2 separate regions of the Homo sapiens genome follow, and region 2 is linked to region 1. Evidence: fine-mapped expression QTL. Tissue or cell type: whole blood. Region 1 holds a variant in brackets; the other region holds the start of a gene. All regions are shown on one strand. Distances are between the middles of the regions.

Region 1 (2,766 bases):
CCCTGTACAGTACCCCTCACTGTGCACATCCCCCGGCAGGGAGTTCATAAAGTGTCCTGCTTCTTGTAGGAAGGTGTGTTTCCTGGACTGATCCCAATTCTGAACTCTTACCTTGAAAACATGGAAGTGGATGTGGACACCAGATGTAGTATTCTGAACTACCTAAAGCTAATTAAGAAGAGAGCATCTGGTATGATATCTATTTTTCTTAATCTCATAATATAGACAGCATGGTATAATCTTAGAATGTTCAATTTCTTAAAGTAGTCTTTTAAAATAATGCTGTATTCATGCACAGTTTCACATTTTTATATTTCTGCAATTGTATTCACCTTATAATCTTTGACACTCATAATTTAGATTAGTAGTGCTTTTTTTCTTATCAGTTCATAAAATAGGGGTGCATCTGAAAATCACTGGCATCTTAGATGATGAAATGGCATCTGGATTGCTTACTTATCATTTACGTCCAACTGTGTTGATCTTACATCATCATGGGCCCTTTTATAGGGCTAAGGAACTCTGTAAGTTAAATAAGCTGAACAGTTCTTTAGCCTGCCTTTGTACATACAGTGAGGCTCCTGAGAATCCCCTTTCTTTGTTAGTTTTGAGGAGGTTACATTTACAATACAGTACAGTAACCAAGTACTGCTAACACAGTACTTGGCACAAGGGAGCTGTCAGCTGTTAATAAAGTGACAGCAATAATGGTAATGGCATCTGTATTTAACTCAAGGCTTCTGTAAACTTTCTGGAGTCACAAAGGATAGCCGTAGAACCCTACCTCACCCCTCAAATGGTATACTGCCAATTTCCCACTTCATTCACTCTACTTACTGTTCTTTATTCTCTCCACCTCTTTGATCAAAGATCGCTCAAGGACCCTACAGTCCTCTGAGGCAGTCTCATGACACTGGCATTTGTAGTCCTAGCCCTCTGGCCAAATGGGAGGGCACATGTTCTTGTACACATGTGCTGGCTCCTGTTCCTTAAGAGCTGGCAGTGTCAGCATATGGGTGGCATCTAACAGGTACCATAGAAACTGGATGTATGTGTTCTCATTGCCTGCCTGCAACCTAGAATTCCTGCCCAGGAGGAGTTCTTCAAACGCTATGAAAGATGTTCCCACCCCCTGCCATGCAGCTACACTAAAAGGACATATTGATTTCTCTCCAGAATTGTGTTTATGCTGACCACTAAATATCAACTTATTAAAAAAAAAACTTACGTGGTTTTAATTTTTTTTTCGCTCCCCCCTCGCCCACAGGAGAACTAATGACAGTTGCCAGATGGATGAGGGAGTTTATCGCAAACCATCCTGACTACAAGCAAGACAGTGTCATAACTGATGAAATGAATTATAGCCTTATTTTGAAGTGTAACCAAATTGCAAATGAATTATGTGAATGCCCAGAGTTACTTGGATCAGCATTTAGGAAAGTAAAATATAGTGGAAGTAAAACTGACTCATCCAACTAGACATTCTACAGAAAGAAAAATGCATTATTGACGAACTGGCTACAGTACCATGCCTCTCAGCC[AGCCC/C]GTGTGTATAATATGAAGACCAAATGATAGAACTGTACTGTTTTCTGGGCCAGTGAGCCAGAAATTGATTAAGGCTTTCTTTGGTAGGTAAATCTAGAGTTTATACAGTGTACATGTACATAGTAAAGTATTTTTGATTAACAATGTATTTTAATAACATATCTAAAGTCATCATGAACTGGCTTGTACATTTTTAAATTCTTACTCTGGAGCAACCTACTGTCTAAGCAGTTTTGTAAATGTACTGGTAATTGTACAATACTTGCATTCCAGAGTTAAAATGTTTACTGTAAATTTTTGTTCTTTTAAAGACTACCTGGGACCTGATTTATTGAAATTTTTCTCTTTAAAAACATTTTCTCTCGTTAATTTTCCTTTGTCATTTCCTTTGTTGTCTACATTAAATCACTTGAATCCATTGAAAGTGCTTCAAGGGTAATCTTGGGTTTCTAGCACCTTATCTATGATGTTTCTTTTGCAATTGGAATAATCACTTGGTCACCTTGCCCCAAGCTTTCCCCTCTGAATAAATACCCATTGAACTCTGATGGCTGTTATCAAAGGAACTTTTCTTTGTTTAAATTTGCTGATGCAGGAATTAAGTTTAAACACAACTCTATAGAAAGAAAGGAGATTATTACCCAGAATTCACATGTAGTGATTATTAAGGACAATTTTTTTTTTTAACTAAAAAAGTTGGCGGCAGGGGTGGGGGGTGGCAATCATTTTTCTTCCTATACATACAAAGGATATTGTCAAAAATGGCGTTCTTCTCTTGTGGCCTGTTATTCTGATTGCTGCTGTATACAGTTTTGTCACTCTTTAGTTTTTAGTTAAGCATACTGATAGACTTTCCTCTAAAAGCCATTCACTCCAGATTTTACCTGGGGAATATTCTACATACTGCTTACTTTCTCTATAAAACTCATCAATAAATCATGAAAGGCACTGAGTTTTGTAAATCAGGACCCTAAATGTTTAATTGTAAATAAGTTTCAGATAATTATTATAGCTTTGCGTTGAAGTTTGTTGTTTTTTTTCTCAACTAGTTAAGTCAACTGCTTCTGAAATAACTCTGTATTGTAGATTATGCAGATCTTTACAGGCATAAATATTTAAACTGTAATATGCTAACTTGAAGAGATTGCAATAAAGCTGCTTCAGCTAACCCTGTTTATGTTTAAATACTAGGGTTTGTTCTATATTTTATACATGCATTTT
Region 2 (2,633 bases), 46 kb before region 1:
GGAGAAGCTAACATTTATTAAGCACACACTCTATACCAAGCACTTTTCTAGAATTAAAGGTACAAAAGGCATAAGTCATCTGTGCCCCAGAGGAATTCACTATTTAGTGTGGAGCTATCTTTAAAATGACTCTATCATTAATGTACGAATGCAACCAAAACACAGAGAGGAATAACTGTGACTCAAGAGATGAACATGAGTGTGTCAGATGGAGAATTTCAAGCAGGAAAAACAACAGAGTGCCAGAACCATATACAGATCTGGTGAGGTTGGTGGGAGGGCAAAGGAGGTTGTTGAAAAGGCTGTGGAAAAATTAGAATGTGGTTTGATTTCTATCCCACCTGTGTGATGAGGATGGAAACATCTTCTCCTGAGCTTCAAACATCCCTACCACACACAGACACACACACACAGACACACAGACACACACACACACCATTGTGGAAATCCCAGCCAGACCTTGGGTATTCATGCCCCCAAGCCCTGTGAGGGGCACATCCAATATGAAGGCTGTGGGAGAAGAGAATCCTGCTATCATGTACTCACTCATTTAGCAATTAATAAGTGCTTACTAAATGTTAACTCTGTAGTGCGAGGGAAGAGGGTATGATAAATACACACTTTCTGGGTAGGTACATGTATGATCTAGTTGCCTTCACTTTTCCCCTGACAGGTCATTGCTCTGTCAACACATATTTATTAAACAATCACTTGGGGGCACGGTACCTCCTTCCTCTCCTTTCCCTCCGAGATAAGGCCAACTCTAGGTGTTCCCACTATCTTCAACCCCACCCCACGGTAGGCTCACAAGAACGTCATTTTGATCACTTAAGGGATGAATTTTAGGTTTAGATGGAGGATAAACTTTTGGAGATGGTTCCTCATATGGTCTGTCTGGAGACTTTTTGCAATAAATGGTGTCCGTGCCATCCAGAGAACATAGGTCACCAGTTAATCAAGACAGTAGGGAATAATGATTTACACATGTTGACAAATTGATTCCTCTTAATAACCAGGTCAATTTTTTGGCCAACACTATACACATGTACACTATGCACATAATTACGACATCTATAAAAGATAGAATTAATCTAATTTTATGCAGATATGGGAAGAACTCGTCCCAAGTCTCACAGTCAGTAAGTGATGGAGCCTAGAGTTGAACTGTTTCACTTCACTACCATGTTAATACTTTTCTCAACACATTCTGCCGCTCTCACTCTAAGTGTGAGGCCCTGTCCAACTAAAACATAATATGGTGAGTTCGTCATTGATTCAAATAATCAACTTTCTTCCCGAATCCCAAGTTTATCTCTTCTGATTAGGAAAAAAAATGCATTTTGATATGTCGCGTTTGCGTAAAGCGAGGCCGACCGCACGCCCCCTTCTCGCGAGCTGCTCCCCTCAACTGCGACCCAATCACCCTTGCACACGCCTCCTGAGCCCCCGCGGTTCCCACCGGGCTTCAGGCCACGCCTCCGCCGCTGCACCGCCTCCTCTCCCCGCCTTCGCCCGTAGTCTATAAAACCTGGAGCGCAGGATCGCGCCCAGGAGCGGCGAGCTAGCGGACGCAAAGACTGGGCATGCTCCGCGGCGGCGCAGGTTTTGGTCACAAGTAGGAAGAAGCCAGTGCACCAGACCGGCAAAGAGAAGCGGGAGCCGCCGCGGCAGCGCGGCCGTGGGGTCCGCCGCCGCCGCATCGGAGCGGGAGGAGGAGCAGCGGGGAGGGCGAGGCCGCCGGGCCGAGAGCCGTCCCGCCTGCTCTCGGTCTTCTGCCTTCGCCTCCGCGCGGTGCGTCGGACCCAGGGTCTGTCACCTGGGCGCCAGGGGCCGCCGCCGGGGAGCCGGAGCGGGCAGGACCCTCCCTCCGCCGACTGCGGCCCGAGAGCGCCCCCGCGGGGTGGAGCGGCAGCCGCCTTCTGCGGGCGGCTGAGTGTCCGTCTCGCGCCCGGAGCGGGCGACCGCCGTCAGCCCGGAGGAGGAGGAGGAGGAGGAGGGGGCGGCCATGGGGCTGCTGTCCCAGGGCTCGCCGCTGAGCTGGGAGGAAACCAAGCGCCATGCCGACCACGTGCGGCGGCACGGGATCCTCCAGTTCCTGCACATCTACCACGCCGTCAAGGACCGGCACAAGGACGTTCTCAAGTGGGGCGATGAGGTGAGCGCCCGCGGTCCCCGTCCCCGCCGGGCACCCGTGTCTGGCCGCCCGCGCTGCCTTTGTCTTGCCCTACGCCCCCGGCCCTATCGCGGTCCGCGTTCTCCACTGCGCCCGGGGGTCCTCGAGCGCCTCCCGGCCCCGGGAGCATCGTCCCTGCTTTCGCCTAGTCCGCGTCCAGGGCCATCCTCCTGACTAGACTCCTTTCTTGTTCATTCATTCTTTTGGGTTTTCCCCTTCATTCCATAAACACGGATTGGGCGCTGGGAGGGCGTGAGCATGAAAAAGTGACATTAGGTGCTGCGAGTCTTCAACCTAGTGTATCTGCAGACCGGCAACTACCATGATCCACCTTACAGGCTCAAAATTCGCTTTTGCGGTCAATATGAAAGAGATTTAAGTTTTCCTAGTAGGCCTGCTGCTTTTAGAAATCAGGTCTTCAGGATGTCCACTTCTGCCCTACCTCATGCAGGTGTCTTTT

Evidence for each region. PIP is the estimated chance that this variant, and not a neighbour inherited with it, causes the effect.
Region 2: it holds the start of GCLC, and the variant in region 1 is fine-mapped to the expression of GCLC in whole blood (TOPMed, PIP above 0.99).

Annotation. Positions count from the first base shown.
Region 1 is chr6:53,497,469-53,500,234 of GRCh38, reverse strand. GCLC (glutamate-cysteine ligase catalytic subunit) reads left to right here. Exons shown (of 16, transcript NM_001498.4): 15 at 70-190; 16 at 1,268-2,766. The coding sequence ends at 1,479. The region is part of intron 3 of GCLC-AS1 (GCLC antisense RNA 1); the gene reads right to left. Among named protein-coding and RNA genes, the nearest start is that of GCLC, 46 kb to the left of the region's middle. The variant AGCCC/C (reference allele first, on the strand shown) is at 1,542.
Region 2 is chr6:53,544,018-53,546,650 of GRCh38, reverse strand. It overlaps GCLC (glutamate-cysteine ligase catalytic subunit), which reads left to right and starts at 1,550. Exons shown (of 16, transcript NM_001498.4): 1 at 1,550-2,155. The coding sequence starts at 2,006. RefSeq lists a silencer at 1,577-2,006 and enhancers at 2,227-2,286, 2,125-2,633.